5 separate regions of the Homo sapiens genome follow, and regions 2, 3, 4 and 5 are each reported to be linked to region 1. Evidence: microRNA targets listed by miRTarBase, many of them from high-throughput screens and not tested one by one. Region 1 holds a microRNA gene; each other region holds the end of a gene's coding sequence.
Evidence for each region. The annotated mature microRNA hsa-miR-924 reads AGAGUCUUGUGAUGUCUUGC and lies in region 1 at 4,572-4,591, opposite strand. An mRNA with a match to its seed (bases 2 to 7 or 8) in the 3' UTR can be bound and repressed. Matches are read on the target gene's strand: a 7mer-m8 pairs with bases 2 to 8, a 7mer-A1 pairs with bases 2 to 7 and ends in A, and an 8mer does both.

Region 1 (6,646 bases):
TGAGCCATCGGTGCCCAGCCTGAAATGTCTTTGGGGCATTTTTTCCCACTGTCTTGTTTGTTAACATGTGGCTCCTGTTCACTTATGCAAATTTTTGCAGCTGGCTTGAATTCCTCCCCCGAAAATGATTTTTTTTTTTTTTTTGAGACGGATCTTGCTCTGTCACCCAGGCTGGAATGCAATGGCACAATCTCTGCTCACTGCAACCTCTGCCTCCCAGGTTCAAGTGATTCTCCTAAGTCAGCCTCCTGAGTAGCTGGGATTACAGGTGTGCACCACCATGCTCAGCTAATTTTTGTATTTTTAGTAGAGATGGGGTTTTGCCATATTGGTCAGACTGGTCTGGAACTCCTGACTTTGTGACCCATGCACCTCAGCTTCCCAAAGTGCTGGGATTACAGGGGTGAGCCACTGCACCTGGCCGAAAATGGATTTTTATTTTCTACCACATGGTCAGGTTGCAAATTGTCTAAACTGTTATGATCTGCTTCCCTTTTAAATATAAGTTCCAGTTTCAGATAATCTCTTTGCTCACGCATAGGATCATACACTGTTAGAAGCAGCCAGGCCCATCTTGAATGCTCTGCTGCTTAGAAATTCCTTCCATCAAATACCCTAAATCATCATGTTCAAGTTCAAATTTCATAGATCCCTACAGCAGGCGCACACTGTCACCAGTCTCTTTGCTAAAGCATAGCAGAGTTGAGAGGTGACAACATGCTGGCGGCTCCCGCTCACTCTCGACGCCTCCTCGGCCTTGGCGCCCACTCTGGTCATGCTTGAGGAGCCCTTCAGCCCGCCGCTGCACTGTGGAGCCCCTGTCTGGGCTGGCCAAGGCTGGAGCGGCTCCCTCTGCTTGGGGGGAGGTGTGGAGGGAGAGGCGTGGGTGGGAACTGGGGCAACGCGCAGCGCTCATGGGCCAGCACAAGTTCCAGGTGGGTGTGGGCTCGGCGGGACCGCAATCAGAGCGTCCGGTCTGAGCTGCCGGCCCAGGGTAGTGAGGGGCTTAGCACCAAGGCCAGCAGCTGCTGAGGGGGCTCCGGGTGCCCCATCACTGCTGGCCTGCCCGTGCCATGCTTGAATTCTTGCCAGGCCTCAGCTGCTTCCCTGCAGGGCAGGGCTCAGGACCTGCAGCCCGCCATGCCCAAGCCTCCCCAACCCTCCCCCCACCCCGTGGGCTCCTGCGTGGCCCAAGCCTCCCCAACAAGCACCGCCTCCTGCTCTGTGGCGCCGGGTCCCATCGACCGCCCAAGGGCTGAGGAGTGCAGGCATGCAGCGCGGTACTGGCAGGCAGCTCCGCCTGTGGCCCTGGTGCAGGATCCGCTAGGTGAAGCCAGCTGGGCTCTTGAGTCTAGCTGGGACTTGGAGAACCTTTATGCATAGCTGGAGGATTGTATACACACCAGTCAGCACCCTGAGTCTAGCTTAAGGTTTGTAAATGTACCAATCAGTGCTCTGTGTCTAGCTAATCTAGTGGGGACTTGGAGAACTTTTGTTTCTAGCTCAGGGATTGTAAACGCACCAAACTGCACCCTGTCAAAACGGACCAATCAGCTCTCTGTAAAATGGACCAATCAGCAGGACGTGGGTGGGGCCACATAAGGGAATAAAAGCAGGCTGCCCCAGCCAGCAGTGGCAACCCTCTCAGGGTCCTCTTCCGCACTGTGGAAGCTTTGTTCTTTCGCTCTTTGCAATAAATCTTGCTGCTGCTCGCTTTTTGGGTCCGCACGTTCTTTATGAGCTGTAACACTCAGCACGAAGGTCTGCAGCTTCACTCCTGAGGCCAGCAAGACCACGAACCCACCGGGAGGAATAAACAACTCCAGATGGGAGTATTGAACAACTACAGACGCGCTGCCTTAAGAGCTGTAACATTCACGGGAAGGTCTGCAGCTTCACTCCTGAAGCCAGCGAGACCACCAACCCACCAGAAGGAAGAAACTCCGAATACGTGTGAACATCAGAAGGAACAAACTTTGGACACACCATCTTTAAGAACTGTGACACTCACCGCGAGGGTCCGCAGCTTCATTCTTGAAGTCAGTGAGACAAGGAACCCACCAATTTGGGACACAGAGTGACCTTTACTCCAGTTCCTAGTAAATTTCTCATCTCATCTGAGACCTCCTCAGCCTGGACTTTATTTTCGTATCACTATCAGCATTTTGGTCACAACCATTCAACACAACTCTAGGAAGTTCCAAACTTTCTTTCGTCTTCCTGTTTTCTTTTGAACCCCACAAACTGTTCCAACCTCTGCCCATTACCCAGTTCTAAAGCTCCTTCCATGTTTTCAGGTATCTTATTAGCAATGCCTCACTTCCTGGTACCAATTTTCTGTGTTAGTTCGTTCTTACACTGCTATAAAGAACTACCTGAGAATGGGTAATTTATAAAGAAAAGGGTTTTAATTGACTCACAGTTCTGCAGGCTGTACAGGAAGCATGGCTAAGGAGGCCTCAGGAAACTTACAATTATGGCAGAAGGTGAAGGAGAAGCAGACAGATCTTACATGGCCAAACAAGGAGGAAGAGGGCAAAGAAGTTGTTGCCACACACTTCTTTAAACAACTGGATATCATGAGAACTCGCTTAGTATCACGAGAACAGCAAGAGGAAAGTCCTCTCCCATGATCCAGTCATCTCTCCCCAGGCTCCTCCTCCAACAGTGGAGGTTACAATTTGGCATGAGATTTGTGTGGGTGCACTAATCTAAACTATATCATATAGCCACTGTGACCACAAAGTCAATCATAGTATAAGCATATTTAAGTCACACATTCATTATAGATCTTGTCTTCACAGGCCCTCCCTGGGTCACAACTTCAAGATTTTAGATAAAGAGGTCAAGCTGGCTTGGGTGTGCATGCAATTCATAAGGGTCAGAAGAAAAGACAGTTGGCTCTGCCCTTTCCTGAACTATAAAACCAGCCATAGTCCTCTGAAGGAGGTGTGTGCTTGAGATTTTGATCCATTGTGCTGTAATTAATGACTTAGGGGGAAAGGCATTAAGATGTAGGTTTGAAACTGCAAATTACTAGAACAACTGCCTGTTTCATATTCTGCTATTTACAAACTGTGGTGGGGGAAAACAGTAACAACCTATAAGGAATCTTGAAAAAAGAAACTGCGTGACAGAGGAGATCATTGTTCTCTGTATTGCAACACACATTCAGAGGCCCTTGAAGTGAAATAACTTAGATATTTTTTTCTTTTTTGTTTGTTTTCTGTTTTTCCCTTTGGGCCGTCTACAAGTGAACCAGTCTAAATTGGTTTAATCAATCAATAGGAATTTGCAATTCTATGCTAAGTGCAACAACAGATAGTAAAAGACTATAAAATACAAAGAGGTATTCTGTGAAATTGGGGCATACAAGAGACAGGCTTCCCCTGCTCCTTTGATCAGTCTCTCAGATATCTCCTAGGGCTTGAATACCAGACATGTCACCACTTCCAAATACTTCAATATTGGCTACCAGAGGAGAAAGATTCACTTCTGGTCTGTCATTCTAATATGGTCTTTAGACCCATGGGGCTAAGTGATAAAGGTTCACAAGTCTTCTGTAATATTGAAAACAAACAAACAAACAAGAAAACACTAAATTAAAGCCTTTTTCAGGTAACTAAGAAAAACCTGCTCAGACTTAGATCAATGTCAGGCTTCTTTGCTTTGTGTAAAGTAACAACTCATTGGAATAACTCTGGTTGAAGTGATATAGCTTGTGCTGATCAAAAAATTTGGAGAGTATATACCTATGATTAGTAAAAATGTCAAAAAGCCTATTGCTAAATAATTTAAAATGTGGAGTCCTCAGTGGAAAAATTATCTGTGTGCCTATTATTGGGGTTCAGAAAACAATACCCAAAAATATGACAATGTGCTCTTCCAAACAAAGCACAGGATTTAGGCTTTTCTCTGAAATTTCCTTATCTACTTTAAGACTGGACCTGCCAAAGGAACCCAACTGCCCTCCATTCCCTCTCTGAAATCTCATTACCTATCACAGAAAAGAAGACAGGAATGCAACCATATCTGGAGGGACATTTTTATAAGATAATGTCTCTCAGCCTTATTTGAATTCCAAAGAGAATCATTTCCAAGTTAATTTTTGTCTGTTGAGTCCATTCATTCCCCCTAAAAATCATTTACTACCCCTCAAAATTGCTACAACCTTGATTGCCCCTTCTCCTGAGAAGGTTATATAAATACCTGGACCTCATTGAGTTATTGGGCCATCATTCTCCTGTGATTCCCTCGTACTCCTGCACATTAAATAAATGTTGTATGCCTTTTTGTATTATTAATCTGCCTATTTTCAGTTTATTTTCAGCAAACCTTTAGAGGGCAGAGGGGAAGCTTTCTTTGCTCCTACAGTATATACCAATGAGATTTACAGAGGCAAAATGAGAACTTTATTTTCTAAAAGCAATCTGCAGACTGGGGAGATGCAGCCTTCAGTGCAAACCAAAATACACACCGAAGAGGAGTCAAGGAGTAGAAAATTATTATAAAGGCAAAAACCATAGGATGGAAGGGAATCAGTTGTAGACTCTAGGTTGGATGGCCCTTAAGCAAGACATCACAAGACTCTATTGACTGGCTTAGGTGGTCTGTGGGTGGTCAGTTGAGGAATTTTCACCAGCAATCTATCTTAGGATAAATAACAGAAACTGGTTTAGTTTGATTGCAGAAAGAGGTCCTGTGACACTTTTAAAACATTTTCCCAAGAATACAGAGTATGTGATCCCTTCCTCACCCAGCCTTGGCTGCCTGGTTCTGTTTTAACCTTGAGCACCTCAGTTAGCCAAGAGAAGTCCATTTTGTCCATCAGCCAAGAGCATATTTTAACAGTGTGTGGAATAGAAACCCAAACCCTAAGTGAATCCTTCTTTATATGAGTCTCTTTGTACCATTTTCTCTACTCTCCAGCTCAGACATGAATTTAAATTTTCCTTTTTGCCCCAATTTTTATCTATAGATTCCTCAAAGTAGTCTGAGGAATGTGAGGTATGTAACATTTTTCATGCCCAGAGAACCATGAGCATGAGACTTCACTCACCCTCTCATCCCACACATCCATGCTTGGAGGGTAATTGTTTAAAGGCATTTGGTTTTTTTCTTTCCTTCCGTGTAGTTTCCAGACTAGCTGATAAACTTCCTAAAATATTACCCCAAGTTTTACAATGTGACTCTCACCTATTTTCTTCATGTTCCTGGGATTTATGATACAAAGAATAATAAATAGTCAACAGCTTATTATTTCAATAAACAATATACCTTATTTAAAAAATTTTTAGGAACTGCCTCTAACTTCTACTTCTTCATTTTTTCTTTGAAAATCCACTTGGAACTGCTGTAAATGCTAACAGCAGCATATATTCAGGACTACTTGAATCTATGACTCTTGGACAGCAGTCCTCAACCTTGGCACAAATAAACTGTTCAATTATATTAATTTTGCTTCATTTTCAACCTTTAGGTGCACAGAATGTTAGAATAGGTAGCTAGGCAGACATGAGCATGGCAGGAGAGGGCCTTCTACCCCGTGAAGGGCAACCATAGCTGGTGCCAGGAAATGGCAGTCTCCCAAAAGACAGAAAACACGCGAAACTGGTGATCAGTAGCTTCCTAAGATCTCAGGAGTTTGGTGAGCAGGCTTAAGTATGCACAGTAAAAGGCAAAATGGTAGAGTTTAATTGGTATATGACCTTCCTCTAGGAACACTCCACTGGTAAGGGAAAAATGCCTCAAATGAGCATGTGCACAATTGCAGTAAACACTGTGCATGCAGCCCCTCTCAAGTGCTGACAGACCACTGCACGTATGTACAGATAGCCAGCCCAAAAAAAAATCAAGGGAGATGAAATGCAAACCCCAGAACCACGCCAATGTATAAAACCCCAAGTCAAGGGTCGGATGGAGAGCACGTGGATCTCTCAAGTCACCCACTTGGCCCTTTTCCATGTTTACTTTACTTCTTTTCATTCCTACTGTAAAACTTTTTAATAAGCTTTCACTCCTGTATTCCTAGGCTTACTATGACTGATCAATAAAGGTCACTGAGATTCAGATCATAAGATTTAGATGGGTAAATATGGCAAATATTAGGGTATTTTCATTCTTTCCTCTGGGAGTCAATGTTATCTCTCACAAATATGAATGTTACATTAATACTAACTGACAATATTAAGACTGTTAAATGAGCTTTCCTCTATCCCAGCATCTTGTTTTGAAGCATGGTGTTCTAGGTGTTAGGAAGTAGAATTTTACATACTCTTTTCTTTAAAGGTCAATATGACCTATTATTTGATGGAGAATTTCATGTTAACACAAACAGATTGTTGTGAGGAAAAGTTAAAAATGCACACAGTTTTAAAATACAACGCAAGATTCAAAGAAACTAAATGTTTGTAAACTATTGCTTATATCCAAGTACTTGAATCCCTGATAGTACGTTTCCTTTTTTCTGACTTTAACAAAATAATAGCATTTTCTGAGCCCTTACTATGTGCCAGTCACATACTTAATCCCTTCATACATCCATTATTTTATTTAATTCTCACAACAATTCTAGGGTGTAGGCATTATCACTACCATTTTAGATGTATGAAAACTGTTCATAAAATGTTAAGTAACTTAGCTAAAG
Region 2 (5,595 bases), not on the chromosome of region 1:
GTCTCCAGGCTCAAGCCATTCTCCTGCCTCAGCATCCTGATTAGCTGGGATTACAGGCACACACCACGATGCCCAGCTAGTTTTTGTATTTTTAGTAGAGACAGGGTTTCACCATGTTGACCAGGCTTGTCTTGAACTCCTGACCTCAAGTGATCCACCCGCTTTGGACTAGCAAAGTGGTGGGATTACAGGTGTGAGCCACTGTGCCTGATCAGGTTTCACTGCCCTGTCTTCCCTGCTCTGAGTCACTTTGTGTGATCTGACAATCAACGACTCCACCCTTCACTGGTGTGGATACATTATCTGGGACTGGGTGTGTCATCTCCACACACAGACAGGGTTTGGTCAGTGGCTGATGCTGCATCTTGTGGTGCCTGGATTTTGACCTTAGGGAGTTTGAAATAAGCGTTCCTAAAGAGCAGCTTCATTGGAACCTTAAAGGAAGTGACTGAATTGCTCTATGCCATTGCATAATATATAAAAGAAACTTTTCCATGTTGCTGTTAACTTTACACTGCTGAGATAAGCAGGCTGTTGACAAGTTAACCTCAGCAGCACATTATCAGAGAAAGTTAGCCTCAGCAGCACATTATCAGCAGCACATTATCAGAGAAATATAAGACAGGCTTGTATTTAGACAATTTACACAAATTTATTAGCCTCCTATGACTCAGTAAAGCAATTTGAAAAAATATAGCTTTATAAGGCATAAACAAATTTATATGTTTTAACTAAGGTACTTTCTGGTAAACAGTGCCTGTACATTTTAGGAAATATTTTAGTCTTTAGAGAATAAGTAAGGCAAAAACAGGTCCAGGAGTTTACAGATGCCCTCCCCTCACCACAAGGCCAAGTCTTTTTTTTTTTTTTTTTTTTTTTGAGATGGAGTCTTGCTCTGTCGTCCAGGTTGGAGTGCAATGGCGCGATCTTGGCTCACTGCAAGCTCCACCTCACAGGTTCACACCATTCTCCTGCCTCAGCCTCCCAAGTAGCTGGGACTGCAGGAGCCTGAGACCACGCCTCACTAATTTTTTGTATTTTTTAGTAGAGACTGGGTTTCACTGTGTTGGCCAGGATGGTCTCCATTTCCTGACCTAGTGATCCGCCCGCCTCGGCCTCCCAAAGTGCTGGGATTATAGGCGTGAGCCACCGCACTCGGCCCTAAGGCCAAGTCTTTTTTTGTGTTTTTTAAGACAGAGTTTCACTCTTGTTGCCCAGGCTGGAGTACAATGGTGCAACCTCGGCTCACTGCAACCTCTGCTTCCTATATTCAAGCAATTCTCCTATGTCAGCCTCCTGAATAGCTAGGATTACAGGAGCATGCCACCACGCCCTGCTAACTTTTGTATTTTTAGTAGAGACGGGGTTTGATCATATTGGTCAGAATGGTCTCTAACTCCTGACCTCGGCCTCCCAAAGTGCTGGGATTACAGGCGTGAGCCACCATGCCCAGCCAAGGCCAAGTCTTTTATTGTTGGAGAGACACGTGTCACATACCAGGCATATGAGACGATGCTCCTCAGTGACCATGATGAATCAGGACAAAAACAAGGGCATTTTGTAACTATATTTTTAAATGTGATAGAGGAAAACGTATTTCAAATCATAAACATGACCAAAATTTTTCTCTTCTTACTAATGTGACTTGTAATTCTCATACATCTCACAGTCATTTATGGCTTTTGGTCATATTTATCACTATGGTATATTACACCCTTGCTGACAGCAGGTATGGCACTGCTGGTTTTGGGGAAGAAGGCACTCAGAGGTGCATGAGATAACTATTGGTATTATGACTGAATGAAAAATTAGGGTTGCAGCTGGGCATGATGGTTCATGTCTGTAATCCCAGCATTTTGGGAGGCCGAGGTGGGTAAATCATGAGGTCTGGAGTTTGAGACCAGCCTAGCCAATATGGTGAAACCCCGTCTCTACTAAAAAATACAAAAAATTAGCCTGGCATGGTGGCGCATGCCTGTAGTCCCAGCTACTCAGGAGACTGAGGCAGGAGAATTGCTTGAACCCTGGAGGCAGAGGTTGCAGTGACCTGAGATCATGCCACTGCACTCCAGCCTGGGTGACAGAGTGAGATTCTTTCTGGGGGAAAAAAAAAAAGAAAGAAAAATTAAGGTTGAGATAAAAATGTAAGTACAGAAGCATGAAAAGTAAAATTTTCGAATAAAAAGATGTCTGGCATTTTATCCACATGGTTATACTGACTCACAATGTCCAAATAATAACAATTTAACAGTATAAGGCTGATCTAATACATGACACCAATGGGATATTATAGCTTCTTATTTAAAAAGAATATCATTTGTTAGTATACAGTTATTATAAACAGTTAATTGTTTACATTCATTATCTGTATTCAAAGAATCTTGTCAGGTCTGAACGCTTTCCCATACTGCTTACATTCATAGGGTTTTTCTCCAGTGTGAGTCCTTCCATGCATTTGAAGGTGCGAGGCTGATCTGAAGGCTTTCCCACATTGCTTATATTCATAGGGCTTCTCTCCAGTGTGAGTCCTTTCATGATATTGAAGGGAACTAGAAGAAATGAAGGCTTTCCCACTTGGCATACACTCATAGGGTTTCTCTCCCATGTGAGTCCTTTCATGATATTGAAAAGAAGTGGAAGAAATAAAGGCTTTTGCACATTGCTTACATTGATAGGGTTTCTCCCTAGTGTGTTCTTTCATGATATTGAAAAGAACTGGAAGAAGTGAAAGCTTTGCCACATTGCTTGCATTCATAGTGTTTCCTTCCAGTGTGAGTCTTTTCATGTCTATGAAAGGAAGTAGGCAAGCTGAATGCTTTTCTGCATTCTTTACATTCATAGGGTTTCTCTCCATTGTGTGTTCTTGCATGTATTCAAAGGATCTTGGCAGATATGAATGCTTTCCCACAATGCTTACATTCACAGAGCTTCTCTCCTCTGTGCATCCTTTCATGTATTTGCAAAGAAGAGAAATTATGGAATGCTTTTCTACATTTCTTACATTCACAGGGTTTCTCTCCAGTGTGTGTCCTTTTATGAAATCGAAGATTTTTGACAGATCTGAAGGCTTTCCCAAATTGCTTACACTCATAGGGGTTCTCTCCAGTGTGAGTCCTTTCATGATATCGAAAGGAAGTGAAGGAAACAAAGGCTTTCCCACATTGCTTACACTCATAGGGTTTCTCTCCAGTGTAAGATTTTTCATGTATTTGAAATGACTTGGCAGAATAAAAGCCCCTCCCACATATCTTACATTTATAAGGTCTCTCTACAGAGTGCATTATGTGTGTTTGTGTCCTTTCATGAATTCGAAGGTTCTGGGCAGATCCGAAGGGTTTCCCACATTCCTTACATGCATAGGGCTTCTCTCCATTGTGTGTCCTACCACGTATTCAAAGGTGTGGGGCAGATCTGAAGGCTTTCCGTCATTGCTCACACTCATAGGGTTTCTCTTCAGGGTGAGTCCTACCATGCATTCAAAGGATTGACACAGCTCTGAAGGCTTTCCCACATTGCTCGCATTTATAGGGCTTCTCTCCAGTGTGAGTCCTTTCATGATATCAAAAGGAACTGGAACTACTGAAGGAACTACTGAACGTTGCTTGCATTCATAGAGTTTCTCTCCAGTGTGAGTTTTTTCATGTCTTTGAAATGATTTGGGACAATAAAAGCCTTTCCCACATATCTTACATTTATAACGTCTTTCTCCAGAGTGTATTCTTATGTGTGTTTGTGTCCTTTCATGACTTTGAAGGTTATTCACATATCTGAAGGCTTTCCCACATTCCTTACATTCATACGGTTTCTCTCCAGTGTGAGTCCTACCATGCACTCGAAGGTGTGAGGCAGATCTGAAGGCTTTCCCACATTGCTTACACTCATAGGGTTTCTCTCCAGTGTGAGTCCTTTCATGATATCGAAGGGAACTGGAATGAGGGAAGGCTTTACCACACTGCTTACATTTATAGGGTTTCTCTCCACTGTGAATTTTTTCATGTCTTTGAAATGAATTCACAGAACAAAAGTCTTTTCCACATATCTTACATTCATAAGGTCTTTCTCCAGAGTGCAATCTTACGTGTGTTTGAAAACTTGTAAGAGAGGATAATGCTTTCCCACACTGCTTACATTCATAGAGATTTTTCCTAGAGTGGGTCCTTTCATGTATACGAACATAACGGGGACACGTGAATGCTTTTCCACATTCCTTACATTGATAAGCCTTTTCTCCCATGTGAATCCTTTCATGTCTACGATAGGATCTGGGACTATGAAATGCTTTCCCACACTCCTGATATTCATAAGGCTTTTCTCCAGTGTGAGTTCTTTTATGTATTCGATGGGTAGCAGAATAACTAAAGGATTTACCACACTGTTTACATTCACATGGTTTCTCTCCAGTGTGAATTCTTTCATGGATAAGATATAATCTGAGACAATGGAATGCTTTCCCACAAAACTTACATTTATAAGGTCCATCCCCACTGTGCATTACCATGTGTCTTCGAACACTTGAATGGGAAATAAAGGTTTTTCCACATACTTTACAAGCATTGGGTTTCTCTCCAGTGTGATCCCTTTCTTGTGTTCTAAAGGAGGGGCGGTATCTGAAGGCTTTTTTAGGTTGTTGACACTTACATGGCTTTGGTCCATATTCCTGATACTCATATGCCTTGTGTCCAATGTCACCTCTGATGTTCATATTAAAAGATGAGTTACCTAGGCCAACTTCTCCACACACAAAGCTTTCACATGATTTTACTTCAGGAGAAGCTTTCTTCTCCTGGAAGTTCAGTCTGTCATCTGGAACTGGGGTAAAAGTTTCTCCACAATGACTGTCATCTTTAATTTCATTGACTTTTTCTTCTATGAGACTCCTGTCAAAAATGAGAAGCATATTATGAAGGGTTTGTTTATAAGTACTTCTATATTAATCAACAAGTATTGCACTTGCATTTTTAACACTCTCCATCAAAGTGTAGGCTTTCTGCCCTGTCTGAATTGTTTGAAGGTGACTGGACAACATATTCTACAAGGTGACCCAGCCATACCTATTATTTAAAAAACTGTTTATATGGGGTATCTTAATACTCTTCCCATGTAAACTATTTTAAAATACTAAATACTCTGTGTCATTTTTCTTTTGTTTCAGGGTCTTATCCTGTTGCCCACACTGGAGTGTGGTGATATCACCATAGCTTACTGCAGCCTTTACTGGCTCAAGTGATCCTCCTGCCTCACTCAGCCTCCTGAGTAGCTGGGACTACAGACCACAATGCCCAGCTAATTTTTTGCTGTTGTTGATATGTGGTCTCGTTATGTTGCCCAGGCTGTTCTTGAACTGCTGGCCTCAAGCTATCCTCCTATCTCCACTTCTCAAAGGATTGGGATTACAGGAGTGAGCCCACAGCCTAGGTCACATTTACATATATGTTTTTTGATCAAATATTCTAAAAATAAATGAATTTGATCCTGGACTTAGTTCTTTGTTTTACTTATTTTTAATATATTGTCATATTCTAAGATTGTCTAGAGAGACACTGCTTTGTCTTGTAAGTACAAATTACCTGAAGTTTCTCCTGGGGTTTTGGTGCT
Region 3 (6,646 bases), not on the chromosome of region 1:
ATGCCCTGGACTCTGTCCTCCAGAGCCAAAGACTTATCTGAGGCAGAAGGTGTGTCTGCCCAGATCTAACCACTCCAGAGAAGCCCAGAGAGGCGTGAAAGCCCTTTGTCCTTCACTGCGAGAAAGGGAGAGGTTAGGGCTAGTGGTATGGTTGGTGCCTGCTGGCAGAAGTGGGAGAAGGGACTTTGAGGAAGGATACTGCATTCAGAGGCAGGAAGAAGTGCTGAGTACTGCCCGCCACTAGGAGGTGCTGAGGGTGCACAGTTGGCACTGTGGACGAGCAGCTGGGCAGTTACCGGCAGGACGCAGTCTAGAGTAGGAGGTGGGCCTGGGCAGAAGGGCGAGTGGCTAGTTCAGAGCTCAGCCCTCTGGCCCTGCTGACACAGGCCAGGCCGGTCCACTCTGGTGGGGCAGGGAGTGTTGCCTTTGTTCACACTCTTCCCGTCTTAACACTATCTCCCTGCTATTTCAGGATCTCAGGCAAGCTCTCTGGACTCCAGCGCCCTGGCCTGGTGGTTTTACATTATCACACATTTTATCTCAGCCTCTCTGTTTGCTTATCCTTTGCTGCCCTGGCTGCCAGTGAGCTTCCTCCTGAGGCCTGAGGCAACCACAGGCTCTGCTCTCCATGGAGCACGAGGCCATGAATTTTAGTAAGCTTAAGAAGCAAAGAGCTGAAGACTTATCTTTTTTTTTTTTTTAATTTTAATTATACTGTTTTTCTCTTTCTTTTCTTTTCTTTTTTAGAAATGGAGTCTCGCTTTGTTGCCCAGGCTAGTCTCCAACTTCTGGGCTCAAGTGATCCTCCCACCTCAGCCTCCCAGAGTGCTGGGATTACAAGCATGAGCCACTGTGCCTGACTTGAAGACAATCTTTTTATTTTTATATTTTTTAATTTCTTTCTGAGAGTTTTACTCTGTCGCCCAGGCTAGAGTGCAGTGGCACAATCTCAGCTCACTGCAGCCTCTGCCTGCTGGGTTCAAGTGATTCTCATGCCTCAGCCTCCCGAGTAGCTGGGATTACAAGGTGTGCACCACCATGCCCAGCTAATTTTTGTATTTTTAGTAGAGACGGGGTTTCACCATGTTAGCCAGGATGGTCTCGATCTCCTGACCTCAAGTGATCCACCCACCTCGGCCTCCCAAAGTGCTGGGATTACAGGCATGAGCCACCACACTCAGCCTATCTTTTTATTTCATTTTTTGAGACGGAGTCTTGCTCTGTCGCCCAGGTTGGAGTGCAGTGCATTGATCTCAGCTTACTGCAACCTCCTCCTCTCAGGTTCAAGTGATTCTCTTGCCTCAGCCTCCCGAGTAGCAGGGAATACAGGCATGCACCACCACATCTGGCTAATTTTTATATTTTTTAGTAGAGATGGGGTTTCACCATGTTGGCCAAGCTGGCCTCAAAATCCCGACCTCATACGATCCACCCACCTCAGCCTCTCAAAGTGCTGGGATTACAGGCATGAGCCATTGTACCCGGCCAAAACTACCTTTTTAAAAAAACTGATTTTGGCCGGGCGCGGTGGCTCACGCCTGTAATCCTAGCACTTTGGGAGGCCAAGACGGGCGGATCACAAGGTAAGGAGTTCGAGACCAGCCTGGCCAATATGGTGAAACCCTATCTCTACTAAAAATACAAAAAAAATTAGTCGGGTGTGGTGGCGTGTGCCTGTAGTCCCAGCTACTCAGGAGGCTGAGGCAGAAGAATTGCTTGAACCCAGGAGACGGAGGTTGCAGTGAGCCGAGATCATGGCACTGCACTCCAGCCTGGACAAAAGAGCAAAATGCTGTCTCAAAAAAAAAAAAAACAAAAAACTGATTTTGCTTAGATTTGTGGTACCAGTGCTAAGCCTTTGTGTATCCTGATCCTTTTTCTCTTAGTGTTTTATATTTAATCTTGCAAGTAAGAAGGCTTACAAAGCACCACCTCTTCTCTCTCCTCTCTGGCTCTTTCCTGGCTGCTGTTCCTAGTAAAAAGGCAGAAAGCAGCCCTGGGCATATCTCCCTACCCCCAGCGTGCACAAACACACACACACATACACACACACACACACAGTCACAAACCTGGGAAAAGGCTTTACTCTTCACCCTGACAGAATCAATTAAGTCAAGACTCATCTCTGCAGTGGGTGCAGTCCCCCCAGGCAACACAGATCCCTGTCTCTCCCACTTACCCACACCATCAAGAAGCATTTGCAGGTGCCGTGACTGTTTGCTCATGCCTGCGTGTCATTTCCTCCTCCTGCAGATGAGCTGTCCATGGGACTGGGTCGTCTGAAGGACATAGCCCTGGGGATGCAGACAGAAATTGAGGAGCAAGATGACATTCTTGACCGGCTGACAACCAAAGTGGACAAGTTAGATGTCAACATAAAAAGCACAGAAAGAAAAGTTCGACAACTCTGAAGACAGACGGATTTCCACTCTATTGTGATGAAAAGATTTGAAAGATCTTTTTTTGAACTTCCAAGAAATTTCATTTACTATTTTAGTATGTAAATTAATGTGTGTTTGCAAATGTTATAATAGAGTAGGTCTTAAGACATTTTTGCTGTTATAAGGAAGTGTTTGTCCCACATTTTCCTAGGGTTAACACCTCACCAAGTTCTTCCAGCAAAATGCTTATTAGAGTTTTTGTCTGAGCACAGTAGCCTGGCCCTGCATATCTTGGGCGTTTGATTACCATGCTGGAATAAGAAGAGTTGCATTTCTCATTTTAATGAGCATATGGAAAGATGGGAACAGAATTTCAGTCTTGCAGCCATGAGCCTCTATTTCTCATTCCTAAGCCTTACCATGAGTCAGAGTGTTAAGGGGGCCTGTGAACCAGTCGTTTGGTGGAGGAGGGTCCTTCCCACACCTTTGTTTAGGAGTCATCATTCACACACACACACACACACACACACACACACACACACACACACACTCTCTGAGCACATTATCTGTGATTCTTTCATCCTCCCAGAAAGGATCAGTGTTAGAATGGGAAATAGAGTGTGCCATCTTGCTCTTTTGTTGGCAGATGTCCCCGCTTCCCTCCAGCCCCCCATCCTTGGCATGTATATTAGTAGGAGGGCTTCACACCAGCACTGCTCACTGCGACTCCTGGAAATGTGTGGGGAATTGGGTGAGCCCCTCTTCCCCACGTGCTCCCATCTGTAACTCTCCATCTGTGATTTGCAACAGGTCTTCCACTGGCTCGAGGCTGCGAGGCTGACCGACAGGGGCGCCCAATAGAGTTTGTGGGAATGGAGTATTGCACAGATGCAGCTGCACAATGGTCTTCCTCCACCCCTCTGGGAATCACCATTAGGCAGGCCTCAGTAGGGCAAAATGTTTATTTGGTACCGGGGGTCTCCTGACCTGTCTAGCATTCCCACCCACTCTTCTGCACTTCTTGCAAGGTAACTTGAATCATCACTTATTTCTCTGCCACCTGGTTTTAGGACTGGCACTCTATAAATGACGCTGACTTTGTATAGAAGGATTTTGCTAAGGGGGCAAAAAGCCCAGATACCATTTTAACTGGCCCAGTTCATTTTCTCCTTTCATTTTACAAAAGAAATCATGCAGAAGCATCAATTAAAACTGATTTATTTATGTTGGTACATCCAACAAAATAGTTGGAGCCACAAGGCCCTTGTCTTTTTAAAAAAACAAAATATTTTGAAGATGGTGAAAGTGACTGATTTTAATAATGAGATAGGTCACTTAAAATAACAGTGCCTTTGACCTTAAAACATGGCACTGGCCCATGTGACCTTTGCCATTTCCCAGTACTTCCCTTTACAGTCTGCAGCCTATAAACAGTGGTGTCTCAAAGCAAAGGAAACCTCCACAAGTGCTGCAACAGTGCATTAGTTTTTATGTAGCAATTTGTTTATAAAAATTCCCATCCCATAATGCATGACCTTCCTAAAAATATCCACAGCCTCCATAGGCAAGGTGAGCTTTCTGTGCTACCCACTTGTTAGATTCCAGCCACCTCAGGGATTCTGATCCATGTCATTAACGACCATCCCAGGGTGTGAGGGCCTGATTAAAGCTTATCGAACTAGACATTTGTTTATTAGATGAGCTCGGCATTATTATTTTCTCAATAACTGGTAGAAGGGAAATTTTAAACATAACACTCAACCCAAACAAAACTACTTCGTGAGGCTTTCAGCAAAAAGGCTGCTTAAAAGCATGAACCCGGGATGCAGAGCAGCTTTTGTGCACGGTTCCACTTACTGTAATTGTTTCTGGTTCTTTCCTCTAACACCTTCCATGTATGTCAACTTTTTATCACCGTCAGGCATAGACTCGTGGAGATTAGTCATTATAGCTCAGACCTAAGCTAATTATTTAAAATAAATACATGTAAAGGCCACTGCCACATTCTCAGCAGACTTCCACTTGCCTAATGAGATTAGTGATTCAACTGACTTGAAGCACAGTAACATCTTATTTTATGCACATTCCCTGTCTTTTGCTGGACTGATGAAGCCAGTCACCCGCCCTTCTCTGTTTTTTGGTTTTTTTTTTCTTAACCCCAGGTATATGGAAGGGGAGTTGCCTTCACTTTTCTGGAAATTTGTCTTCGTCTGACATATTAGAGGGCCTCGTTTTGTCCTGTTCTTGTTCAGACCCTCTCGTTCTACGTCCTGTGCTGAGGGGACTGTCCGTAAGCTACAGGACAGCGAGCTGGTCCTTTCTGCCACTTCTTCCCCACTCCCATGCCCAGGAAGGCCTGGTTGCTGATGCTACTTTATAAATGAGTTGCTTGCATTTTCACAGAGAATGAAGGAAGACGTAACATGGCTCCAGAAACTTTTCACATGATGATTGGGATCGACAAAAAAATGCTACCCTCTAGACTAGACACATTTCATGGAGACAAGCAAAATGGTGCCAGGGCTGGGCTGACTGTGGGATGGGATTTGGTACTGCAGACAGATTTTGATTTCCACAGTTGAGCTGGAAACAAACTGTGCCTTCAAAAAATGACTTTTCTAACTTAAGGTTGGTTATATGTTAAGTGTGCTACTAACTTAAAAAATAGTGGCTGGGCGCGGTGGCTCATGCCTGTAATCCCAGTGCTTTGGGAGGCCAAGGCGGGGGGATCACGAGGTCAGGAGATCGAGACCATCCTGGCTAACACGGTGAAACCCCATCTCTACTAAAAACACACAAAAAATTAGCTGGGCGTGGTGGTGGGCGCCTGTAGTCCCAGCTACTCAGGAGGCTGAGGCAGGAGAATGGCATGAACCTGGGAGGCAGAGCTTGCAGTGAGCCGAGACAGCGCCATTGCACTCCAGCCTGGGCAACAGAGCAAGACTCCGTCTCAAAAAAAAAAAAAAAAAAAAAATAGTGCACTCTCTGGCTGGTCACGGTGGCTCACGCCTGTAATCTCAGCACTTTGGAAGGCCAAGGCAGGCGGATCACGAGGTCAGAAGATCGAGACCATCCTGGCTAACACAGTGAAACCCCGTCTCTACTAAAAATATAAAAAATTAGTCGGGCATGGTGGCGGGCGCCTGTAGTCCCAACTACTCGGGAGACTGAGGCAGAAGAATGGCGTGAACTCAGGAGGCGGAGCTTGCAGTGAGCCAAGGCGACAGAGCAAGACTCTGTCTCAAAAAATAAAAAATAGTGCACTGTCCTTCGAGAAAGTTTTCTAACATCTAGTAATTTGTAACTTAGAAGTGGAGTTGCCTTGTGGATGTCTTTTTTGCATTCTGTAGGAAATGAAACGTGAATTTAACTCGGGTTGCAAGAAATAAAAATGTCAGTGCATTTAAATTTCTCTTTAACCTCTTTTTGTGAATATGTAATTTTAAGTGTACACTATACCAATTTAGTAATAATCTTATACTTTGCCCATATGGGCCTTTTCTGCAGATTTTTTTTTTTTTTTTTTTTTTTTGAGATAGAGTCTCACTCAGTCACCCAGCCTGGAGTGCAGTGGCACAATCTCGGCTCACTGCAACCTCCGCCTCCCAGGTTCAAGCAATTCTGCCTCAGCCTGTCGAGTAGCTGGGGTTACAGGTGTGCACCACCATGCCCGGCTAATTTTTTTATTTTTTTAATACAGACAGGGTTTCACTGTGCTGGCCAGGCTGGTCTCCAACTCCTGACCTTGTGATCTGCCCGCCTCAGCCTCCCAAAGTGCTGGGATTACACGTGACCTGTAGAATTTTAAAGTTACAAATGTTGTTCAGCATCTTCAGCTCTGATGAATGCGGTGTCAGTACAAAATGATGAGCTAGAGCCAGGGCATGGTGGCTCATGCCAATAATCCCAGTGCTTTGGGAGGCTGAGGCAGGAGAATCTCCTGAGGCCAGGAGTTTGAGACCAGTCTGGACAACATAGTGAGACCCCACCTCTAGAAAAAATTTTTAAAAATAGCTTGGCCTCTAGTCCCAGCTACTTTGGAGGCTAAGGTGGGAGAATTGCTTGAGCTCAGGAATTTGAGGCTGCAGTGAGTTATGATCATGCCACTGCACTCTGGCCTGGGCAACAGAGGGAGACCCTGTCTCTAAAAAATAATAAAATGATGAGCTAAGTTCGAGACCAGCCTGGCCAACACAGTGAAACGCTGTCTCTATTAAAAATACAAAAATTAGCCAGGCATGGTGGCATGTGCCTATAGTCCCAGC
Region 4 (6,646 bases), not on the chromosome of region 1:
TGTGATGTAATTGTTTCCTCACTAGCAAGAGAGGGAATTGGAAAGACTGTATTTTTTGTGGATTTGATGTGTACGTATCTTTAACCTTTCACCCCTTCCCATTTTTAATAGTTGTAGCTGGTTTTCTGGGGGCAGGGGGCTGGGAGGTAGAACAGGAAGGGAGGCATCCTCCCCTTTTTGTCATATTGAGCTAAAGAATGCTAACTGATGGTGGTAGCTTTATAGCAGCGACTCCCATTGTTGAGCAAGATGGAATTTGTGAAAGCCATTTATATCCTCCGTCTAGTAGGCGTCACTTAGCCAGGGCTATAATTAGTGGCCATGCGCTATTTATTGTGTGTTTGGTGGTGAGAACCCTGGGAGCTGAGCCAAGCATCCTGCCCTGGCACAGCCAGACAGGGTGCCCGGAGAGACCGGAAGGCCTCTACCAGGATCGGGGTTAGGTTGTTACCCTTAGAATCAGACCTGGAGAGACAAGAGTTGCTTCTCCAAGTCAGTCTTTGAGCCTGGGATGCTCTCCTTAGAAAAATGTATGTGCCCAATAAAAATGTGCACAATTTCAAGGATTTTCCAATGCCCTCTTGGAACCATCAGTGGAACCTAGGTTAAGATGGCATCCCCAGGAAGGGACTGCTCCAGGTCCATCGCCTCCAGAGGCAGAATCTGCAAGTATCTTGGGAACTGTAAAGCTTCTGTGTGCTTATGTCTCTTGTGACAATAGCTGCTGTAAACTGTAAAGGTCCTACTTGGGGATAGTCTTTGCTGGGACCCCAAAAGCTCTATCCTCACCAGTGGGGATTAAAGACTGGCAGAAGTGTAGTGTAGGGCCGTGGCTCTTAGGCAGGCACAACAGTTTCATATCTAGGTTACTCCAGTGTTTGATTCTTGTGTTTTGCCATTGCCCTTAGATTCTAATCCCAACTCACTCCCACCATCTTTTCTTCCTTCCAGACTGTGTCAGGGAAAAGGGAGGCAAGGTCCTGGTCCACTGTGAGGCTGGGATCTCCCGTTCACCCACCATCTGCATGGCTTACCTTATGAAGACCAAGCAGTTCCGCCTGAAGGAGGCCTTCGATTACATCAAGCAGAGGAGGAGCATGGTCTCGCCCAACTTTGGCTTCATGGGCCAGCTCCTGCAGTACGAATCTGAGATCCTGCCCTCCACGCCCAACCCCCAGCCTCCCTCCTGCCAAGGGGAGGCAGCAGGCTCTTCACTGATAGGCCATTTGCAGACACTGAGCCCTGACATGCAGGGTGCCTACTGCACATTCCCTGCCTCGGTGCTGGCACCGGTGCCTACCCACTCAACAGTCTCAGAGCTCAGCAGAAGCCCTGTGGCAACGGCCACATCCTGCTAAAACTGGGATGGAGGAATCGGCCCAGCCCCAAGAGCAACTGTGATTTTTGTTTTTAAGACTCATGGACATTTCATACCTGTGCAATACTGAAGACCTCATTCTGTCATGCTGCCCCAGTGAGATAGTGAGTGGTCACCAGGCTTGCAAATGAACTTCAGACGGACCTCAGGGTAGGTTCTCGGGACTGAAGGAAGGCCAAGCCATTACGGGAGCACAGCATGTGCTGACTACTGTACTTCCAGACCCCTGCCCTCTTGGGACTGCCCAGTCCTTGCACCTCAGAGTTCGCCTTTTCATTTCAAGCATAAGGCAATAAATACCTGCAGCAACGTGGGAGAAAGAAGTTGCTGGACCAGGAGAAAAGGCAGTTATGAAGCCAATTCATTTTGAAGGAAGCACAATTTCCACCTTATTTTTTGAACTTTGGCAGTTTCAATGTCTGTCTCTGTTGCTTCGGGGCATAAGCTGATCACCGTCTAGTTGGGAAAGTAACCCTACAGGGTTTGTAGGGACATGATCAGCATCCTGATTTGAACCCTGAAATGTTGTGTAGACACCCTCTTGGGTCCAATGAGGTAGTTGGTTGAAGTAGCAAGATGTTGGCTTTTCTGGATTTTTTTTGCCATGGGTTCTTCACTGACCTTGGACTTTGGCATGATTCTTAGTCATACTTGAACTTGTCTCATTCCACCTCTTCTCAGAGCAACTCTTCCTTTGGGAAAAGAGTTCTTCAGATCATAGACCAAAAAAGTCATACCTTCGAGGTGGTAGCAGTAGATTCCAGGAGGAGAAGGGTACTTGCTAGGTATCCTGGGTCAGTGGCGGTGCAAACTGGTTTCCTCAGCTGCCTGTCCTTCTGTGTGCTTATGTCTCTTGTGACAATTGTTTTCCTCCCTGCCCCTGGAGGTTGTCTTCAAGCTGTGGACTTCTGGGATTTGCAGATTTTGCAACGTGGTACTACTTTTTTTTTCTTTTTGTCTGTTAGTTATTTCTCCAGGGGAAAAGGCAATAATTTTCTAAGACCCGTGTGAATGTGAAGAAAAGCAGTATGTTACTGGTTGTTGTTGTTGTTCTTGTTTTTTATAGTGTAAAATAAAAATAGTAAAAGGAGAAAAGCACTTCTTCATGTTGTTGGTGAATTGGGATAAGGTAGGAATACCCTTGGGTGGGGACCCAGCCTGCTTCATTGGGATTTATTTGTAAATGAACAACAGGGTGATGGTGGTGGAGGTGCAGCTATAGGCATGACGATACAGAATGTTGCTTTCCAACTGAGGGGTTTCCCTAAGCTAACCGGCAAGAGAATTCCTTAGTGCAGGCCTCATAGGGAGGTGGTGAGAGTATCTGCCCACTCAGGGCCCTTCACTGCCATCGCACTAGGCAAAGAGCTCTACTTGAACCTCAGATTCCTCACCTGTGAAGAGTGAGCTGAGTTAGATGATCCCAAGAGTCCCTTAAAGCATAAGGCCCTTGGTTCCAGTAAGCCTGAGTGCCAAGCTTGTGGCCAGCTACCTCCCTCCAGTGCCTGGCATATGGCAGACTCAGAAAAGGCTGGGTAAGTGGCCAAGGGATGGAGAAGTGAATGAGGTGAAAGTTTGCCCTGCCAGCCTGCCTGACGCCCTCTTTCCACTCTTGCAACTAATTCTAGATAATTCCCCAGGAGTTCCAACGTAAATCCCTCAATGAGTAGGTTTAAATCCAAGGCTGAATCGACTTGCTTTGTGAGTAACTTCCTCTGCGTAGGTGGAGGAAGGAAGGGGCAGTTGTCAGCTTCTCCCCATGATTGGCTCTGCCTGGGCTCCAGCCTAACTCCTGGGTCCTGTTCCTAATCTGAGGGAACAGGGAGCTGGTTGGGGTTTATGCCATCCCAGTCAGCTGATAAATAACAGGGATTCCAGCCATACTTCTCAATGCTGGAGGGTCCAAAGGGTGTCCAGTTCTCCCGACATGCATTGTGTCAACAAATAGCAAGATGGTGGCAGAGCACAGGCAGCCCAGCTCTCTAAATTCCTCACCTCAAAGGCTTTGCGTGAGGTCTTTCTCTCCACCTGTCTTTCCTTTCCCCAACTGTGTTCAGAGGTTCCTTGGAAAGTCCACAGATGAGAAGGTCACCCAGGGTTAGGATGCTGAATTTCTTTCAGCCCACTCCCCTCATCTGTGTAACCAAACAGCTTCCACAGTGAAGAGCACTAGACCAGATGGTGAGAAGTTGTGGGTTCTAGCCCTTGCCCTTCCCCCAGCTCTCCAGTGGTTTGGAGCTAATCTCCAACCTCTGTGGACTAGATTTCTCCAGGGCTCTTATCTAGCTGGTGCCTAATCCCTCGTGGTGTCCCATCTCTGAGCCTCTGACCAGCCTTGGAGTGTGTCCCTGAAGCCTGCCCATTGTGTGGGCCTATGCAGGTGCTGAGTGGCTAAAGGAACCTTGGGTAGGGAGAGCCGGGGAGTAGGAAGCTGGATGCAGGCTGGGGTGATGTGCTAAGCTCAGCCCACTTGCTGACATTTGCTTTATTGCATTAAAGTCTTTCTCTGAAGGGTGAGTAAGTCCTCTAAATCAGGCATATGAGGATTGCTCATCGGCGGGTGAGTCACTGGAGGGTAAGCCAAGTGAAGCCCCACAGCTGGAGATGGCTCTAGAACCCTCACTCCACTTAATAGTCTCTTCATTGATTACATCTCCATTCTTGCCAAGACCAACTCTACACTGGCTTCCAGTGCCAAATGGGGAATTCAAGCTGATGGCGTTTAGATCCTTCATCCCCAGGTTTTGAGAAACACCTCTGTCGGTCTCCAAGCATCATCGCACATAGAGATGTGTTCAGGAGAAGAAAGATGTTAGTTCTCTCTTTCCCGGCTGTACCTGTAGGAAGCCCCCTCAGATCCACCCTAGCTAATGAGCTAGGCCAGATGGGGCAGGAGTTGTGTGAGCAGTCTCTAACCAGGATCCAGTGTGCTGGCAGGAGTCCTGGGTACTGTGGATCTTCACTGTGTGAGGCCCTCAGGAAAGTGCCTCACCAATTTCAATACTCTGAACAGCTCTATCTCTTTGAGTTACTGGTTGTTCTTCTGAACACCATAAAGCTCATGACTGCTCTGTTTCCCTTCCTTGCTAAGGCCACCAGGCAGCTCAGAACTAAACTCTTAGCCCACTTCTGGCAGTTTTGTAGGAACTTAACATGAATTTTGGGTGTTGATTCCACCGTTTCCTTTAAAATTTCCCATCTTTATTTTTCTTTTACTTCCATTTCCTCATCATTCTTAAAAAGAACAGCAAAACTTTTACACCCTCTTTAAATAGACTCCACTGCATTTATGGAATGAAATAGGGTATAAATATATAGAGAGTAGCCTGTGCATCCTCAGTGTTACTATTGTTCAACTCACTCTGAAGGGTTCATCCATAAGACTGGGTTCCTTTACCTTTTCAGTGAGTCTGCCAAGTCCTGTATTACTTCTGAAATAGATTCTGTACAGAGCCCAAACCTCATAGCTGGGGCCCTGGATCCTTGCCTCAGAATCACTAGCACTGCCCTATACTTTCAGCCTTGTATTCTGCTGCCAGTACCATTCTATGGAGAGTGTTGGCACTGATGGACGGATGCTCAAAGCTACAGCGCAGGCCCTCCTGACCCCTAACCACTGGATGGGATGGAGGGGACTCCCATGCTTAGATAACCATCACCCTTCCATCCACTTGACAACCCCTGCTAGAACCTGGAATTCAGGGGAAAACAGCCAAACAGCCATATGGCCCCACCCTCATGGGTCCATGAGTACTGATGACTGTTCACTGGCTTTCTGTCCCTGCCTGGAGCCGACCTCCTTAGTTGGACCAATGTCGTTAGCCCCACACAATCCCCTTCTCCAGCTCCCCTCTTCTAGGCTCTAGCTTCATCTTCTATCTGTGGTTCAGCACAACCTTGTACCCAAGCTCCTCAGATTTGCCAGCCTGTGGTTATGGCTGTGTTACTGTGCCAGCAATCCACACCCTACTCAGCCCACCCCTTAGTCTCTCTTGCATTGTTCATTAATTTTTTTTTTTTTTTTTTTTTTTTTTTTTTTTTTTTTTTTTTTTTTAGAGGGAGTCTTGCCCTGTCGCCCAGGCTGGAGCGCAGTGGCCCCATCTCAGCTCACTGCAACCTCCACCTCCTGGGTTCAAGCAATTCTCCTGCCTCAGCCTCCCAAGTAGCTGGGATTACAGGCATGTGCCACCATGCCCGGCTGATTTTTGTATTTTTAGTAGAGACAAGGTTTTACCATGTTGGCCAGGCTGGTCTTGAACTCCTGACCTTGTGATCCACCCTCCTCAGCCTCCCAAAGTGCTGGGATTACAGGCGTGAGCCACTGCGCCTGCCTATAAATGTTTTTATATCTCATTTTTACAGATGCACAAACTGAACCTCAGAAATATTAAGTAACTTGCCCAAAGTCACACAGTTAGCAAAAGGTAGAGCTCGAATGAAGCTATTTCATTGATCTTGTACCCCTCTGAACACCTGGGGTATATAATAGGTACTTCTGTCCATTGGGCTTTTGTTTGCAAGGAAGTCTCCTCAGTCTACTTTAAGGAAAAGTGTTTGTGGATAAATGCAAATAGCACTGAATCCCCAGTTATATTCCATTCCAGCCACATTGGCTTTCTGACAATCCCTTAAACATGCCAACATCCCTCCTGCCTCAGGACCTTTGCACATGCTGGTCCCTCTGACTGGAATCTTTCTCCTATAAATTCCCCCTCCAACCGATTAACTCATACTGGTTTTTCGCCTCTCAGTTCAAAATTCACCTTGCCAGGAAAGCCCTCCCAGACTAGGTCAGATGTCCCTATTGGCTCTCATAGTCTTCTATATCTTTTCTTCGTATTTCATCAAAGTTTAAAAATTTTTCATTTCTCTGTGATTATTTTATTAACGTCATCTCCTTCAGACTAGAAACACCGGGAGAACAGAGATTACATTGCATTTCAAGAGTAACCAAGGACAGGGTCTGACTTATCCTAGGTATTCAATGAGTACTGGTTGAGTGAAGGAGTGAAGAAGTGACAAACAGAATGAAACGCTGGTCAGAAGCAGAAGCTGTTCTCTCCGTTTCTCTCAGAGCCCCTATGACCCTCCAAACGTGAGTTTCTTTATCCTGGACCTATTTGCCAGTTCCTCCCCAATCCTGGAGGAAGCAGATTCCCAGCCTTAGCTAATTACTGCTACCTTATTGGTCAGAGGCCATGGTACCCCCTCACCTCGTTGGTCACTGGTCAGCCTACGGCTGGGCTGCCCTTGGGTCAGATGCCCACC
Region 5 (6,646 bases), not on the chromosome of region 1:
TGTTTATGTAATGAATTGCACTTATTGATTTATGTATGTTGAATCAACCTTGCATCTCAGGGATGAAGCTTTCTTGATCATGGTGGATTAGCTTTATGACATTCTTCTGGGTTCAGTTTACTTTACTAGTATTTTGTTGAGAACTTTTGCATCTAGGTTCATCAGAGATATTGGCCTGAAGTTTTCTTTGTTCATTGTGTTTCTGCAGGTTTCATGATATCAGTGTGATGTTAGCCACATAGAAAGAGTTAGGGAGGAGTTTCTTCTCGTTTTTTTGGAATTGATTCAGTAGGATTGGTACCAGCTCTTCTTTGTACACCTGGTAGAATTCAGCTGTGAATCTGTCTGGTCCAGGGCTTTTTCTGGTTGGTAGGGTTTTTTTATTACTGATTCAATTTTGGAATGCATTATTGGTCTGTTCAGGGTTTCAATTTATTCCTGGTTCAATCTTGGGACGTTGTATTTTTCCAGGAATTTATCTATTTCTTTTAGGTTTTCTGGTTTGGGTACATAAAGATGTTTGTAATAGTCTCTGGATTTTTTGTTTGTTTGTTTGTTTTTGTATTTCTGTGGAGTCAGTGGTAATATCCACTATCATTTCTGATAGTGTTTATTTGGATCTTCTCTTTTTTCATTTTTAGTCTAGCTAACAGTCTATCAGTCTTATTTATTCTTCCAAAAGGCAAACTTTTGGTTTTGTTGATCTTTTGCATAGTTCTTATCATCTCCATGTCACTCAATTCATCTCTGATTTTGGTTATTTTTCTTTTGCTAGCTGTGGGATTAGTTTGTTCTTATTTGTTTAGTTCCTCTAGGTGTGATGTTAGATTGTCAATTTGAGATCTTTCTGATTTTTTGATGTGGGCATTTAGTGCTATTAACTTTTGTCTTAACACTGTTGAAGCTGTATCTCAGAGATTCTGGTATGTTGTATATTTGCTTTCATTAGTTTTAAAGAATTTCATAATTTCTGCTTTAATTTCATTGTTTACACAAAAGTCATTCAGGAGCAGATTATTTAATATCCACTTAGTTGTAGGGTTTTTAAAAATCTTCTTGGTATTGATTTCTACTCTTATTGTGCTGTGGTCGGAGAATGTGGCTGGTATGATTTTGGCTTTTTTGAAATTATTGAGAATTTCTGGCTGAGCATGTAGTCAATTTTAGAGTATGTGTCATGCATGGATGAGAAGGATTTATATTCTGCTTTTGTTGAGTGGACTTTTCTGTAGATGCATGTTAGTTCTATTTTGTCAATTGTCAAATGTAGGTCCCAGATGTCTTTGTTAGTAATCTGTCTTGATGATCTCTCCAATATCATCAGTGGGGTGTTGAAATCTACTATTATTGTGTGGTTACCTATGTCTCTTTGTAAGACTAAAAGAATTTGTTTTATAAATCCAGGTGCTGTAGTATTGGGTGCATATATTTAGGATAGTTAAGTCTTCTTGTTGAGTTGAACCCTTTATCACTTCCTTTCTTTGTCCTTTTTGATCATTTTTGGTTTAAAGTCTGTTTTGTCTGAAATAAGAATAGCAACCCCTGCTCTTTTTTGTTTGTTTTCTATTTGCTTGATAAATCTTTCTCCATCCCTTTACTCTGAGCCTATAGGTGTCCTTGAATGTGAGATTGGTCTCTTAAAGACAGCATACACTTGGGTCTTTCTTCTTTAATCAATTTGCCACTTTATGCCTTTTAAGTGGAGTGTTTAGCCCACTACCATTCAAGGTTAATATTAATATGTGTGGATTTGATCCTGTCATTCTGTTGTTACCTGGCGTTACGTAGACATGATTGTGTTTTTGCTTTATAGCATCAATGGTGTATGAACTTTAGTGTGTTTTTGTAGTAGCCAGTAATGGTCTTTCATTTCCATATTCAGCACTCCCTATGAACCTCTTGAAAAGCAGGTCTGGTGGTAATGAATTCCCTTAGTATTTGCTTGTCTGAAAAGGATTTTATTTCTCCTTTGCTTATGAGGTCTAGTTTGGCTGGATATGAAATTCTTTGTTGGAATTTCTTTTCTTTAAGGATGCTGAATATAGGCCCCCAGTCTCTTCTGGCTTGTAGAGTTTTGGCTGAAAGGTCCAGTGTTATCCACTGCTGTGGTTCCCTTTGTAGGTTGACCTGCTCATTCTCCCTAGCTACCTTTAATAGTTTTCTTTTCACATTGACCTTGGAGGATCTGATGACTATGTGTCTTGGGGATGGTTGTATTATATAGTATCTTGCTGGGGTTCTCTGAATTTCCTGAATTTGAATATCAACCTCTCTAGCTAAGTTGGGGACATTTTCATGGACAATATCCTCAAACATGTTTTCCAAATTGCTTGCTTTCTTTCCCTGTCTTTCAGGGATGCCAATGGGTCATAAGTTTTGTCTTTTTACATAATCTCATGTTTCTTGGAGATTTGTTCATTTTTGAAAATTCTATTTTCTTTATTTTTATCTGACTGTTAATGTGAAGAACTAGTCTTTGAGTTCTGAGATTCTTTACTTGACTTGGTCTACTCTGCTGTTAATACTTCCAATGTGTTATGAAATTCTTGTGGTGAGTTTTTCAGCTCTGTCAGATCAGTTTTGTTCTTTCTTAAAATGGCTATTTCATATTTCATTCCTTGTATGGTTTTGTTGAATTCCTCAGATTCCTCGGAATGGGTTTCAATCTTCTGATTTTCAGTGATCTTCATTGCCATCCAGATTCTGAATTCTATTTCTGTAATTTCATCCATTTTATTCTGGTTAAGAATCACTGCAGAGCAGCTAGTTCAGTCATTTGGAGGTAAGGAGGCAATCTGGCTTTTAGAGTTTCAGGAGTTCTTGAGCTGGTTCTTTCTCACCTATGTGGACTGATGTTTCTTTAATTGCAGTGTAATTTGAGTATAGTCAGTCGGTTTCATTTCTGTATGTGTTCAGAGGGCTGAGGCTTTGTGCAGGGTCTTTATTTGCAGTTGAGTTCTTGTCCTTGGTTTTACAGAGGAGTATATTACCAAAGTATTTTTGGTGTTGAAGTTTGGTTTGCAATTTAATAGATAGTGCTTAAACATAATGACTGGTAGATAGGCTCTTACCCAGCCATGCAGCCCCTCTGTGTTTCCTCACATTTGTAGCCATGCTTCCCCTCAGTGCTCTGAGAGTGTGTGATCCTCTCCCACTCAAGTGCTGGTCATAGATCTCAGCTTAGCACTCCCAGACTGTGCACTGCAGGCCTGAGACAAGCTTAGGATTTTTTCTCTCTCCCCAGCTTGGTGGCAGCAGGGGCAGGGACCTTGGCATGCCACTCAGAGCCACTGCCAATTAGAATAATCAGCTGGGGAAAGGTGGTTGCATTGCAGGCCCAAGCTAGGGGCTCATGACTGGTGAAGAGCAGGAGGGCAGGGGAAGGCAGTCTTGCCTCTTTTCCATAGGGCACTGCAGCATGCTGGAGGTGCACAAATTCCAAGATTCCTAATCCATCCCTAATTACTGGCTAGAGAGGGATAAAATTCTGATACTGACACATATGTTTGGATGGCACTCCTCTGTCTCTGTCTTCTGCTACTGGTCAGACAAGCACAGCAGGTACCATTTATTCTACAAGAAATTTCTGAGTGTCTGTAACAGAACAGTGTTAGTTAATTAGGGATTAGACATAGGCCATGAATAACAATATTTCTCATCGTGGACACTTTACCTAGAGTGACTATCATTGTGGTCAGGCCAATTCTGGACACGTATTTATTTTATTTTATTTTATTTTTTATTGTTAGTTGCCGAAAGGTAGATTCTTCTGCAAGTTTTATAAAACCTCAAAAACTAAGTGACAGCACTTAATCAATACTTCTTGTAACAATTAAATTAAAGTCAGAAGAGCATTTCCTTACTTAGTTCTAGGAAAGTAAAAGTCAATCCCATACCAACTGGGAGACTTAATTCCAAAGCAGGTTTAACGTTGGCCTGAGCTGTTTACTAAAATAAGAAACGTACCTGCCTTGAGCTTACTCCTGGTCATGACATGGAACATACTTTTGAGAAATTTCCATTTTTTATTGATTCACAATTATTGTAGTAAGATTGATCATTTGTATCTGGTTTTGTCAAGATACCTGGAGGGCTCTGTTGCTTGGCTGGTTACACAGCAAGACTATGTCTACATGACCAGCTGAGTAAAAGGAAACCTGGCTGAAACTGAATTTTAGATCATCTTGTTTGAGGTGTTTTTTTCCACACATCCATGGTTTCTGGACCCAGAGAGAAAAATATAAGGACCATATTCTGGTATGGTCCTTATAGAGAGAGGGCAATTAGACCCTTCAACTAGCTTCTCTGAACCCATTTCCCTGAGCCAGCCTACGGCTGTGATACACATCTTTACTTTAATGCAGTTTCTATATTTTATCATTTTCTTGCAATAAACTGCAAATTTGCAAGCACCGTCACTTGGATTCTGCCAGTCTTTGTCAGCAACAGAAGCCTGTCTAAGTGCCACAGTTAGTGTGTGCTTACTGACCTAGGTAGGCAGACTGAATTTACAAGGAAACATTAACAACAGGCAGAAAGAGCAAATTGTGTCATTCCTTAGACAGGCAAGAGAATTGGACAAATCGTCTACAACCACCAGGTCATTCATTTTTTGGCAATTTTTGTTAGAGTTTGTTTTTAGACAAATAGACAATGATCATTGCATTGACACAAACCATTAGCTTTCCAGCTTTTGAAATTCTTTAAAAACAATCTAAGCTGCACCAGGCTAACAAAACAGATATTAATGATTGTCTCCGTGAATGAAATTGGGAAACTTACGTAATTATTGCCTAGGTGTGGAGAGAATTCCTCAAGCTGTCAGTTCTTGGTTTTTCCTTGTGCAGAGTGCTCACCTGAGAACAGAAGATATGTTTTGATCTGTAAGCTCAGAGACTGAGTAAGGATGAAAATAAAGTTTCCTAGCTTTTTTCTATTTTTCAAGGAAAGTTCAACTTTCCTGCAAGAATGTCATTAAAGCCACCATTTGCCTCTTGGTATTGTCTAGAAATTAGTCACCAAAATATATGAACTTTTCCCAGACATCATCTGTTTTCACTTTAAAGTAGCAATATGAAGTCCTGGGTGGGATAGGTCAGGGGGCAGTGGGGGCGGGGATGTGAGTTGGGAGATGATAACATTAGAGAAACCCTGGGGAATAAGTATTGATTTTTGCTTGTTACATGAGCTGGCTGTGCCTAAGCAAGCCCATGTCATGTGTTTAAAGTGCCATTTTATCAGGAAGACATTCTAGGGTCCTTCTGTTTAAATAATTCAGTGAGGGTTTTGTGAAAATGAATTTATAGGCCAATATGAACACTTGGGTGATATACAGAGCAGCGCAGGTGCCATTACTCAAAATCCCAGTGCTATTCCACCATCCAATATACAGAGAAATATTAACCTAGGATGGTGGCAAGCTGAGAGGCCCCAAGTATTTTTCACATGCCACTGGATTCATGACCAATATATTTCGCATTACTTGTGTCCTTCAGGTAGAATCGAGTATCAACATCAGTCAAACAATATAAAAGCAATATAGGTCAAATCTCCGGCTTTTAGAATAATTCTCATCATTTTGCTCCAGCTTTTATCTGCCACTTGTTAGGAAATCTGTCCTTTCGGGACTCTGAGGATGTCACCTGTTACTTGTACCATCACGGCAATAATAAATAGTGCCAGAGACCTCTGAGGAGAACAAATTCAAGACTCCTCTTCAAGAGCTCCTTCGATTCTATGCTCTGAGAAATGTTGGGCATAGTTCTGCAGCACCCCCAGCCCCTGCTCCAAGGCAATCTTTTGCTAACTATTGTTCGTTTTGCAGAAGACACAGCACCTGCTTGGAACCCACGGCTATGAAGTACTGGAATGAGAAGTAAATAAAATAAATATTGAGTCATCCCCTAGTATCTGCCAGAAGTCATGCAAAGCAAGTCATTGAAAATCTTTACAATTCGTAATATTCTTCCTCAAGGTCTGTTTAATTGACAGACTAGAAATTTTGAGAAAAATTTAATAACAATATGATATCAGTAACAAGAATAATGATATTTATAGTAAAAGAAAACAACCCACACACATATCTAGTGAAAAAAAAATCCAGAGGGAAATATATCAAATACCAGTAGTGGTTGTATGAAGATTGTTTCATAGGTAGTTTTAAATTCTTTTTTATTCTCTATTTTTTTCTATTTTTCATTATGCATAATCTGGTCAAATATTAAAATGGTAGTTTCAGCCATGAAGAAATATTATAAGGCAGTAATATATGTTAATTTGCCAAATTAACAACATGTTAAGATGAGGGAAAGACTATTTGTAGTTGAAACAGTCAAGGAAGCTTTGGTGGAAATGCAGAGAATGAGACAAATATTGACGGGCTGCGGACAGAAGAGGATTCTATATATGGCTTTATAAATTTGTGAATGTTTTGTTCATTTTTACTCTGTGGTTTTTTTTTGTTGTTAATGAACTTTTACTTGTAAAAATAAATAAGCAAACAAAGATGACTATGCACTTAATGAGTAATTGCCATAGCATACCAATTAGTTAGTTTGCTAATGACATATTAATTATATGTAATTACCATTAGAGGGGTAAGTGTACATGACAAAGGAGAGCAAGAGACTCTCTCTTCCTTCTAGAA

Region 2: the mRNA of ZNF440 is a reported target of hsa-miR-924. Seed matches in the 3' UTR shown: 8mer at 2,773-2,780.
Region 3: miRTarBase lists SNAP29 as a target of hsa-miR-924. Seed matches in the 3' UTR shown: 7mer-m8 at 5,321-5,327 and 7mer-m8 at 5,612-5,618.
Region 4: miRTarBase lists DUSP5 as a target of hsa-miR-924. Seed matches in the 3' UTR shown: 8mer at 1,413-1,420.
Region 5: miRTarBase lists EMCN as a target of hsa-miR-924. The part of its 3' UTR that is shown has no 7-base or 8-base seed match.

Annotation. Positions count from the first base shown.
Region 1 is chr18:39,617,582-39,624,227 of GRCh38, forward strand. MIR924 (microRNA 924) reads right to left here and starts at 4,594; the gene lies at 4,542-4,594. All of the region lies in intron 2 of MIR924HG (MIR924 host gene), which reads right to left.
Region 2 is chr19:11,830,650-11,836,244 of GRCh38, reverse strand. ZNF440 (zinc finger protein 440) reads right to left here. Exons shown (of 4, transcript NM_152357.3): 3 at 5,568-5,595; 4 at 1,029-4,877. The coding sequence ends at 3,281. Among named protein-coding and RNA genes, the nearest start is that of ZNF439, 15 kb to the left of the region's middle.
Region 3 is chr22:20,885,426-20,892,071 of GRCh38, forward strand. It overlaps SNAP29 (synaptosome associated protein 29), which reads left to right. Exons shown (of 5, transcript NM_004782.4): 5 at 2,254-5,789. The coding sequence ends at 2,411. Among named protein-coding and RNA genes, the nearest start is that of CRKL, 29 kb to the right of the region's middle. RefSeq lists an enhancer at 346-846.
Region 4 is chr10:110,509,069-110,515,714 of GRCh38, forward strand. DUSP5 (dual specificity phosphatase 5) reads left to right here. Exons shown (of 4, transcript NM_004419.4): 4 at 952-2,465. The coding sequence ends at 1,358. Among named protein-coding and RNA genes, the nearest start is that of DUSP5, 14 kb to the left of the region's middle. RefSeq lists enhancers at 3,124-3,203, 3,634-3,683, 3,764-4,033.
Region 5 is chr4:100,405,500-100,412,145 of GRCh38, forward strand. It overlaps EMCN (endomucin), which reads right to left. Exons shown (of 12, transcript NM_016242.4): 11 at 4,783-4,856. The coding sequence ends at 4,822. Among named protein-coding and RNA genes, the nearest start is that of SNORA101A, 14 kb to the left of the region's middle.